Homo sapiens: one gene and its partner. The protein of the gene in region 1 interacts with the protein of each later gene in a pairwise test. Each region holds a gene or a part of one and is shown on either strand. Other genes may lie near its edges.

What was found. Proteins that work in one complex are often made in the same cells at the same time.
Region 2: the proteins of SLC71A2 (region 1) and SLC66A2 interact in binary tests that used the Homo sapiens proteins (3 or more experiments, as listed by UniProt).

The regions. Positions count from the first base shown.
Region 1 is NC_000009.12:94,454,526-94,461,542, forward strand, and holds the end of SLC71A2 (hippocampus abundant transcript-like protein 1), read left to right. Parts: intron 1-1,714; coding exon 1,715-1,812; intron 1,813-3,796; coding exon 3,797-3,939; intron 3,940-4,635; coding exon 4,636-4,887; 3' UTR 4,888-6,517; downstream 6,518-7,017.
Region 2 is NC_000018.10:79,901,920-79,906,696, forward strand, and holds the end of SLC66A2 (solute carrier family 66 member 2), read right to left. Parts: intron 2,265-4,777; coding exon 2,057-2,264; 3' UTR 501-2,056; downstream 1-500.

The DNA of each region.
Region 1 (7,017 bases):
CCGGCTAATTTTTGTATTTTTAGTAGAGATGGGTTTCACCATGTTGGCCAGGCTGGTCTCAAACTCCTGACCTTGTGATCTGCCTGCCTCGGCCTCCCAAAGTGCTGGGATTACAGGCGTGAGCCACCGCACCTGGCCACATATGCTAATTTTTAGAGACATTGAATATAGTCAAAAGCAAAACAAGAAGATACAAAAAAAATGACTGATTATGGCAAGCTTCACTATGACTTATCATTACCTATCAGTAACATAACCTTGATAAATCATTTGAGTTTGAACACTAAAATTTCTTCCAAAACCATGTGCATTCTGCCGCAGTTATTACTACCATATTAGATTCCCCCATAAACAGGAAGGAAGGTCCAAATAAGCTCAGTGGAATAAGAAAAATTAGAAGGAATCGTGAGTTTTGTTTTGTTAATGTGGCAGGTTTCTCCATGTGCCTGGTGGGCAGATGCAGAAATGCCTTCTCCATTTTAGACGGTAGAGCTGGTCCTTACTTTGGACACAAACAGACAACATAATTTAGAGAAACTAGAATTGCCTTAGTTATCATGTTTAGTTTGGGGAGTAAGTACATATGCCCCTTCTGAATTTTGGAATTTCATTTGATCCGCTTGCTCTTTCCTTTTTTTTTTTTTTTTTTTTTTTTTGAGAGAGAGAGGGTCTGGCTGTGTTGCCTAGGCCAGAGTACAGTGGCACAATCATGGCTTACTATTACAGCCTTGCTGCCAGCCTCAAGCGATCCTCCCATCTCAGCTTCCTGAGTAGCTGGGAGTATGTACACGCACCACCACGCCTGGCTAATATTTTGATTTTTTTTTTACACCATGCCTGGCTAATATTCTGATTTTTTTTTTTTTTTTTTTTGTAAAGACAAGGTCTCATGTTGCCCATGCTGGTCTTGAACTCCTGGGCCCAAGCAATCCTCCTGCCTTGGCCTCCCAAAGTGCTAGGATTACAGTCATGAGCCACTGTCCCTAGCCGTCTGTGACTTTTTACCAGATTAACTTGCTTGATTCTCCTTGTTCTTTTTGATTTTGCTCCTGTGAACTTTGGTTCAGTAGCTGATTTAGTCACATTCATGTAGTGTTAAAAAGACTTTGTCATCATGTGAGGTTTTTCTTTTTCAGTAATGACCATCCCAAAGTTGGGGCCTCACTTTACTCACTCACACTTCATACTGATACATAGTTAAGACTCTTATTGAGAGGAGGACAAAGGTCTAAAGAGGAAGGCAGGTCTGTTTTTCCAGTTGGGGGCACACCATGCTCTCTCTGTTGAGGGGTAGCAAGCTGTAGCTCGAGGGCAGTGTGAAAGTGAGCCTTCAAGAGGTACAAAGAAAAAATGAAAGGTCAGTGGAGAAAATGTGGTATTTATAGCAACAAAAGAAATCTCCTTGCGAACTTCATTGAGCTTATGTCTAAAGATAGCAGTAGGGAGACCAGGGAGAAGAAAAGTTTGTAAAAGAAGTAAAATCAAGACACAAAGGTTTCCTGGCCCTTCTGTCCCCATCCTAGGCCATTCGTTTCCTCCAGTGTCACATGTAACCTTGTAGGTTAAAAAAAAAATGCATTTTTAAAGAGGAAAAAATAAATAAAATGTAACAGGAGAAAACAAGGCATTTGTACTTTTGCCACTGATTGCATTCCGAATAGTGAGCTCCTTGAGGTTGACCTGCTGCCTGACTGTGCCTGTCCTGTCATTGCAGGATGATGTGGGCAGCAGGGACCGTGGCTGCCATGTCCAGCATCACGTTTCCGGCAATCAGTGCCCTCGTCTCTCGGAATGCAGAGTCAGATCAGCAAGGTGAGGTCACTGCCCCCCACTTGTTTTTCTCCTTCAACGGGAGACCTCCCTGCTAGAAGCAGGAGCAGCTCTGAGTTCTCCCCATCAACAGCAGGAGCCGACAGCCATATGGCCCCTTTTATCATACCTATTTACTTTGGCAGATAGGAACATTCTATTTTCCTCTCTGCTTTGATCTTACACTTATATTTTTTAAAGCTAGACTTAGCAGTTCAGATTGCTAACAATTAGAAATAGAACTATTCATTTTCCCTTTTCAGTTTTGATACATCTTTTCTTCTTTAGTGTCACAATTAAGCAGACTATAATCACATTTTAACAGATGTCTATTAAATAATGAAAAACCAGTTAACCACGAGTTACTTAATTACTTTATTCACTAATTATTTGGAATAACTCAAAGTCTTTGAGCTTAATTTAGAAAATAGTTTGAGAGTAGTAAGAAAAAGTCTGTGTGGTTGTTGATAGATGTTGAGTGAGAGATGAAATTAAAATTAAGACTGCTATGTGGAAAATAGCATTCTACCATCTAGATCCATATCCCATCCTTCCCATGCCTCTGCTTCCCTTCCTGTCCTGTCTTGTCCTCCCTCCATCCCTTCTTCCCTCTTTTCCCACCCTTCCTCCCCCCACCCCCCACCTCCTACCCCTTACAGGGTCTCACTGTCACCCAGGCTGGAGTGTAGTGGTACAATCTTGGCTCCCTGCAGCCTCCGTCTCCTGGGCTCAAGTGATCTCCCAGTCACCCTCCCAAGTACCAGGGACTAGAGACGCACACTACCATGCCCAGCTAATTTTTTGTATTTTTAGTGGAGATGGGGTTTCGCCATGTTGCCCAGCCTGGTCTCGAACTCCTGGGTTCAGTCTGCCTGCCTCGGCCTCTCAAAGTGCTGAGATTACAGGTGTGAGCCCCCATGCCTGGACTGCTTTCCTTTCAAGCAGTTCCCATGGCTAGATTTAATCTCTTTCCTTCTCTATCTCCTAATGGCTCACCTTATTGTATTCAGGAAGAAGTAGACAATTTTAGAGGGAGAAAAATTTTTTAATGCCTAAGAGCCCTTTTTTTTAAAAGTTTTAGTAAAAAACTATATTGGAAAGGATGGTTTATTCATTGCATTTTTTTTTTCTATATCAGAAGTTAGGTATCTTACTCAGATTCATTGTTAAATATTGTCCCTTGAAGACCACACATTCTGTATGTCACTCCTGGCTACAGTAACTCAGTTGGTTTGCATCCTTAGGGAGGTGCTGTGTCTGAAGTGAAGATGTGATGACCCATCCGTGGAGGACTGTCACTGCCTTGGCATCTGACAGACACCGTCCTGTCATTTGGGGCATGGATTTTCTTTTGACTTTTTATACTTATTCATGTCAATATACATGTTTCTGAATGTCAGCATATAAAAGTTTTGGAACACATTGTATTAGGCTGAATTATATACTACCATTTTTGATTTACAGAAACATTCATTTCATACAGTTCAAGCTAACTTTTTACTTGCTATGTTAGAAAGCAGAGATATTTAGGAATTTGGCACTTCTGGGTTTTTCAGTGTAGGTCTCTAGGGAGATAGGCTGGAATACACCTGTGAAGATGAAGTCTGCCTACTGGGGACTGGTCTGTATTCCTGACACCAGGGCTGCCAGAGGTGAAGGGCAAGTTTTTGTTGTGAAAGCACCAGTAAATGACCAGAGCAGGGAAATCTCAGTTGACAGAAAAGTGGACATTGCCTGAAATGGGAAGATATTAAAGTTTTGGATTGTATATGTTTTTATGATTTTATATGTTTTATATGGTTTTATTAGTTTTGGATTTTATTTTATAATGGATAAAGTCTTCCTAATCTACTTTCATTAGCATGCTTTCTCTTTTCCTCAGTCTTGCCGAATTAGTGTATCATGGTTATGAGAAAGTACTGTGCAGCTCCAAATCTTGAGATGCCTTTCTGAGAAGACTGGCATTATTTTCTTTGTTCTGATTTAGGAGTTGCCCAGGGGATCATAACTGGAATAAGAGGACTATGCAATGGCCTGGGGCCAGCACTGTATGGCTTCATATTCTACATGTTCCATGTGGAACTGACTGAGTTGGGCCCGAAATTGAATTCTAACAACGTTCCCCTGCAGGTAATTTGGTCATAAGTCTAGTTTTGTAACAACAATTATGTATGATTATAGCAAAATCTTGTGACCTTAAATTTGGAGAGCATTCTTTCTTGTATGTTACTATATTTTATTTGGCAGCAATAAGTATTGTGTTCATTGCTTCTCGGGATCAGGGAGGGGTCATTTTAGTGATTTAATATCTTATGTAAAAGATATGTCTTAACTTTGTTCAGATTCTGTTTTCACCTACACAATCACTACACTATTCTCTGGATAAGCCCAGGCTAGTTAAAATTTGAAATGACCTAAAAATCCAGCTAAAAATTGAGGTAGGGTACTTTTTGTACTATTTATTTGAAATTTCTTCCCTTGTTCCCTCTAAGCCATATCTATACAAAGCTGGAATTAATGTTCATGTACAAAGGTGCATGATCTGAAGTCATAGGATGGGATTATAGGTAAACAGCTGTTGCTTACAAGCTTACAGTTTTGCTTAAGCTATTTGGAAGTGGTACAAAAAGCAGTTAATTAGTTGCCCTTTGTCATATTCCAAACACCAAGCTCTAGTGGAGTTTGCCTTGACATTTAATGAAACATTTGCTTATGAGAATATGATTCACTTTTTGGTGGTGTGTTTTTTTTGGGTAATCTAGGAATAATTTTGAGTTAAAAGACTAACTGTATTCTTTGTCTCCACTTGTTTTCCACGTTCAACAGGGAGCTGTCATCCCAGGCCCGCCGTTTTTATTTGGGGCATGTATAGTCCTTATGTCTTTTCTGGTTGCCTTATTCATTCCTGAATACAGTAAAGCCAGTGGAGTTCAAAAACACAGTAACAGCAGCAGCGGCAGCCTGACCAACACCCCAGAACGGGGCAGTGATGAGGACATTGAGCCACTACTGCAAGACAGCAGCATCTGGGAGCTCTCTTCATTTGAGGAGCCTGGGAATCAGTGCACTGAGCTGTAAACTCGGCAGAAAGTGGGATTCTGCATACGCCATCTCTGAGAGCCATGGAGGGAGCCACACCCCTGGTGACTTCATGGTGCTGGATGGGAGACGCTAGCGGCATCCTTCAGGGCCAAGTTTGATAAATACCACCGCCATCATTCTGCTCATCCTCCTCCTGTTTTTTTTTTTTCTCTTACATTCTTTTTTTTTTTCCTGTTTATACATTAGAACAAGATAAGATTTGAAATACTTCCTTGCAAATAATGTGCAACTCCCAAGGTGAAACTCAAATAGAAAAAGTCATCTCTCTGGTAGAAAGGATGGCTTTCCTGTAATGACTATAGAGTAAGAGTGGCAGCAATCTTTCCATGCCCTTTTCAGCAGAAGGCACAGAACAGTAGCGGGACTGCCATCTCTGGCAAGATTTCAGGTAAAGAATCTCTTCTTAATTTCTACCTTCCTGTTTCTCTGAATCAGCCCATAGGTGTTGATGAGTGGCCACTCTTAAAGAGTCACTCAGTATCAGGGATCTACTGTCTTTGTTCAAAGGTCAAATAAAAACCTAGTCTCCTTTTATTCTACTTTCTATTCTTAGCTAGAATGAAACTCAGCATATATACACTTCTGGACATAATAATATTGAATAGTAATTACCTTTACTAGATGAAAGAAATTTTCATTACAAACTTAAATCATGTAAAACTCAACAACTCAGATTCCTGGACCTGGTGTCCTGGTTGGGTCCAAGGTGATTTTACAGAAGAAAAAAACAACTCAAGCATTCTGGTGGCAACATAGAGATTGTAGGCTGCTTCTAAGAAAGTTATTAACAATTTGGAAATTCCTAAGTAGGATGAGAGTTAGTAACTGGATACGAGTGAAGTTTATATCCAAGTTCAGACTCAAAGGCATTATTATGATTTGCTTCTTCCCATGTCTTCCATGTCCTGCTTCTCAAAGTTTTTCTCATCCATCACACTCCTGCCTTAACTGCTCTGAGTATGCATTTGTTTTCAATTCATCTTTATTTCAATCTGTTTAACTTTTGAATCGCATGGGAATACGCACATTAAGTTCCTTTCTAAAATAAGGTTTTATGAAGCTGAGTTTCACGATAAGTGTCTTGCTATTTTTTGAGATGTTTTATGGACAAAGAAAACTTTACAGATTTATATGTATTTTGCTGCACCAGTAAATGGACCATTAACTAGGGCCCACCTTTAACAGAGCACCCCTTTGAAAGTTTTATAGGTATGAAATATATGTAGATATTTGTAAAGGGTTTTAATTTTTTTTTTTTGATGGGGTGCTGTGTAAATCTTGTATTTATAAATGTAATGAAGGTATTGACAGAAAAAAATATATACAACTTTTATAAAGGATTGTGTACTGACTGAATACATTTAAAAGAAAATATATTTTGAAACCTGTTCTGCTATGAACAGAGATAACATATCTTTTTACTATGCTATTGGTTTTTAGGTTAAGCTTCCTAATGCATAATAAATTTACAGTGGTTACTTTTATGTCTTGTGTCTTTTTTTTAAAGCAAATAGTATTGCTCTTTTGGGTTCTCTGTTGGGTGGCTTTCAATTAAACTGAGTTGTAATCTTTCAGCTGATGCAAAAGGTATGTATTTTCAAAAAAATTTTATTTTTAACAAAATTCCTTCAAAGTCTCCCTTCAAAAACATCGTAACTACAGATGCTCCTTGAAAAAAACATCGTAACTACAGATGCTCCTTGACTTACCGATGGGGTTCCATCCTGATAAGCCCATTGTAAGTTGAAAATATCATACATTGCAAATGCATTATTAACACAGCTTAGAAGCTTCAGCACTTTCGGTATCAGCACAGTAGAGTATTGGTTGGTTGTTTACCCTCCTGAGTGCATAGTGATTGGGAGCTGCAGCTCACTTGCCACTGCTCAATGTCACGAGAGAGTATCATACCACATATCGCCAGCCTGGGAAAAAAAATCAAAATTTGAAGTATGGTTTCTACTAAATGGGTATCGCTTTTATACTGTCATGAAGTTGGAGACCATCTGTATTTTTATTTTTAAAAAGCAGGGACAGAACAAAAACGCGTATATCCACGTTCATAGCATTCATAACAGCCAAAAGATGGAAAAAAACCTAAGTGGC
Region 2 (4,777 bases), on another chromosome or scaffold:
TGCCTGGACGTGGCCTGTGCCCTCTCCTAGTACCCAGATGGGCCCTTCAACCCAAATCCTGCCCTGCACCCACACACCTGGTTTTTTACTGGACAAAGAAACATCTTGCCTTCAATGTAAACTGCACAGAAAAAATCGCTATGCACACACAGCTCCATCTGTATGTGCTGCTCCAAGATCGCAAATCTGGAAACACTTCTCTTGGCCTTTACAGGAGACCCTTCCCATGCTCTAAGCCTTCGGTGGTGGGAGGCAGAAGGGCGGATGTGGCCAGGGCAGCTAGAGGCAGTGCCAGACCCGTCTGTGAGGAGCCAAAAGGACCCCCGGGCTGCCGGCCCACAGGCACAGGCCAGTGACAGGTCGAGGGGGCTGGGCTGTTGTTTGGGGCCCTGGAGGAACCCAGGTCACACAGGGGCCTTCTAAGGTGGCCCAGGCTACAAGGGTGTGTCTGGGCAGAGGCCAGGACCACAGCCAGATCCTTCCCTCTGCCCAAGGCCAACTCAGGATCCACAAATGGTTTATTGATTCCAAGTCGCCACACAGGGTACATTCAGCAGTCACTGCGCCTGCAGTCGGCGACAGTTTAATGTGAGGCAATTACCGCTACAGACATCTTGCTTCATCTTAAAAAAATAAAAATTTTCAAAGCATCTCACAGGCCAAAGAGCTAAGCAGGACCCTCACTCAGACATTCAAGAGTGTTTCCGAGGAAAACTCGAGGAGGAGGCAGCGTGGAACATCTTCCCATGGCCACGGCCCCGGCACAGAGCTCAGATGCCTGCGGGAAGCGGCCCCTCCACCTGCGGAAGGGAAGACGATGCCTGTTGGAGCCGCACGGAAGCATCCAGAACTCTGAGGCCTGGGGGCCGGCTGCGGTCAGTGCAAGGCTGCTGACATGGTGTGACCTCTTGCAACGGGGTGGGGGCAGAGCGTGCGGTGACAAGGGTCAGACTGGCGGCTCCCACTGCAGCCAGAAGTGAGGGAGCCAGCACACGGGGGTGGGCAGTGGACAGGACAGGATGCGGCAGGCCCCAGTACCCCCCACTCAGGAATTTGCTTCAGGCCAAAAGCCCAGGGCAGCAGGGTAAGGCGCCATCGGCCAGGACCTGCACGGCAGGGGCAGCCCCCTCCACTCCCTGGACCCGAGACCGTCTCTCCTGGAAGATGGACATCAAAACTGCATCCGGAGGTGCAGTCTGCACCCAGAAGGAAGGGGATCTCCGCCAGCAGAGCCCAAGAGTGGCGTGCAGACTGCATGTGCACAGCCTCAGCCCGGCCCCCTCAGCCATTGCCCATGAGGGCCTCCACGTTGTCTGATGGTCGCTGGCATCTGCCACGTCCCCAAGGACTCGAGGAGAACCAGAGGCTGACAAGAGCAGCATGAGCTAGCCCTGGCGATGCTCAGCCGGGCTGGACACAGCGGATCCACAAGGCGTTCAGGCCTCGCAGCCACTCCAAAGGCCCAGGAAACACCGACTGTCAGAAAACCCGGAGCACGGTGACCCTGCGTCCGCACAGCCGCCTTTCCGTGTGTACCAGGCAGAGAAAGCCCCAGCCCTCCCCCGTGCCAGACCCCTGGGTAGCAGAGGCCACCCCAGTCCAAGCAGGGTGTCTGGCCAGGGTGTCACGGGGTCGAGGGCTCCGCTCACAGGCCTTACAGGGTCTCCTGCGGTCACCCCAGCTTCAAGGTTCGCGGCTGCTGGCCCGTGTGTCCACCTGGAGCAGGTTCCTGCAGGCCGCCCAATGTGTACCTTGGGCTCAGACGGTGTTTCATAAGAGGAAATGGGGAAAACACTTGCTTTTTATGTCATCCTAAAAACATCCAAAACCCTCGGGGCCAGATCAACCCTGGCTGTCCCCGCTGAGCACAAACAGCGTCCCAGCCCCACCCCCACTGCCCACCCTGAGACACCCCACAGAGGCTGATGGAGACCCCAATGCCCATGCCCCATCTCTGCCACACCTGCAGGGGCCACAGCACCCACCCTCCCCGCGGGGAGGTCAGGGCCCACCAGTGCCCGCGGCTGGCGGTCCCACATCCTCGTCCTCCCCACTGTCAGAGGGCCTTGGTGCCAGTGGGGTGCACGGCGTGGGGCGCCGGCTTCTGGGGGTGGCGGGCGAAGGCGTAGGCCTGCCCCAGGATGGCCAGGTCCACCAGCACCTGCAGCAGGCCGCACACGGAGAACTGCAGAGGGGCACCCTTCAGCAGGAAGTAGGCCGTCTTGAAGGCGTCACCACTGGTCCACATGAGCACCATCTTGATGCTGTGGAGACACAAGCAGGCGGTCAGCGGTGGGGAGGGCGGCGACCTGGGCTCAGTCAGTGGGGAGGCCTGGGGCTTAGACAGCGGGGAGACCTGGGGCTCAGGGGCACCCAGGGGGCTAAGGGGACCCCCAGGCAGTCGGCGGGGAGGCCTGGGGCTCAGGGGGCACCCAGGGGGTTGAGGGGACACCCAGTCTACAGGGTGACCCAGGGGTCAGGGACACCCCAGGGGGCCAAAGGACACACCCTGACCCCACCTGTCCCATGCAACCCCCACCCTTGACTTCTCTGTGGCCGCAAGAGCTGCCGCCTGGCTGGGGCTCTGCAAGCCCAAGAACAGTGAGACCAGCTCGAGGCTACAGGGGACAGCAGGGCGAGCAGCTGACGTCAGGGCCCCTGGTGCGCGGTGGCAATTCTGGGAGGGGCCGGGCCTGGGAGGGTGCTGAGGACGCAGATCTGTGCCCCCAGGCACACAGCCAAGTGGAGCAGAGCAGCTGCTTTTGGGTCTCTGCCGGCCTCCCTCCCTGGTGATAGATGCAAACCTTCCTTTCCTGGAGTGAACAGGGAGCAGCCGCCACCCACCATCCCAGTCCGAACACGCTTCCCCCACCGCTGTGTTCATGCCCTGGCTTGCCTAGCAGTGAACATGAGTGCTGCTGCACTTTCCCGTGTGAAATGTTTAAATCAGCGGCCGCTGACCCTTCCACAGCTCCTGAAGCCAGAGGCAGAGCCTGGGTGGGGAGCGCTGCCTGGACAGAAAGGACAGGACACAGCCCTCCCCCACCCTGGGGCGTCCGTCCCGCTCATAAGCCAGGGTGGGCACCTGGGTGCCGTAGCCGCCCTGTGTGAGAGTCTTCAGGCACAGCCATGGCCGGGTGTGTTCAGGGCTGGAGCTAGGAACCCGCAGGAGACAGCCGGCATCTGCACCCCCTCCTCTCTCCCAAGCCCACAGTGCTCGGCTCTAGAGCATCTTGTTGGCCTCTGAGAACATAAATCCGGCTTTATCATTACACCCACTGGGAAAAACCAGGAGGCTTTGGGACTGTTTCCACTTGGGTCGGTTTAGCTAAATTATAAGGCCCTGACCCACAGAGGGCATTTTCCTCCCATTTTTTATTCTCTGGGATGTGTCCTCCCCTGGATGCAGCTCCAGCTCCACAAAATCCAGTCTCTTCCACAGACAAAAAGACAGGGTGGTGCCTGGGTAGCACCGGGGGAAGGTGGTGCAGGCCCCTCGGCCTCTCACACACCCCAGCAGTCAGCCCAGGCTTCGGAATTCCCCCCTGCCTGCTTTAGGCCCAGGCAGGGCTGCACAGCTGACTTGGGGTGGGGCTCCGGGCCTGGGACCACAGCCCCGGTGCAAAGGCGCCTGCCTTTCCTGCGCTAGCCATGCACACAGCAGGCGCCCGAGCATTGCGCGGTGACCCCGCCACCGGTCACCTTCGCCCCACGCAGCTTCCGGTTGACCCCTCACACCAGGATGGGAAACAGAGCTCGCCTGACCCTCACACACGGCTGAGATTTCCCAGGATGTGCTTGCGAACAAGACTCAAGGCCTGAGAGCCACCACCACGCCTGCTTCAGGGACAGGCTACTTCCCACACAAAGCCCGTGGCTTTACTTGGCATGCAGCATCAGCTCACACTTGAGTTTCAACACTTTGTTTCTAATCAGTTGGTAACTCTGTAAACACACACACACCCACACACAGACACAATTTCTGGCTTCTCTGGAAAAAGAGCCTTTTCAGACTTTAGATTATGCATCTACAACTTCCTTCATAGATACGGGTTATCTACTTAAGAGATACTCAAGCTATTTCTTCTTGGGTTAAAGGAATTGGTCCATTTTATCCAAATTTTCAAATGTATGGGCATGAGGTTGTTCATTGTACTCTTTTGATGCCTGTGGGGTCTACAGAATATCCTCTTCCATACCAAATACTGGGGATCTGTGCTTTCTTGTCATTCTGGCCACTGGTTTATCAGTTAATGATTTGTTCCAAAGAACCAGCTTTCAGTTTGGTTTTTTATGTTTGCTGCAGTTTTGTTTTCATTTTTGTTGCTTGGTGTTAGCTCCGTTATTTCCTTCCTTCTGCTGGCTTGGGGTTCCTTTGCATTTCATTTTATAGTTTCTTAAGCTTAGATTGATGATTTGAGAACTTTTTTCTAAAATCAGTATTTAATACTACACATTTAACTCTAAGCATTGCTTTAGTTGCATCCCACAAATTTTGATATGGTGGTGTATTTTTCAGTTCAAAATATTTTCAATAGTTTGCTTTGCAATATCCTCTTTAACAGATTGTTTAAAGGTGTGTTGTTTAGCTTCTAAACCTTTGGAGACTTAAGATCTATTTCTGCTATTAATTTCTAGCTTAATTATATTATATTCATAGAAAATACTTTGCACAATTTCAGTTCTTTTTTAAAAAAATTCTCATGACCCAGGATATGGTCTGTTTGGTGAATGCCCAACGGGCATCTGAAAAGAATGCGCACGTTCACTTGGCTGT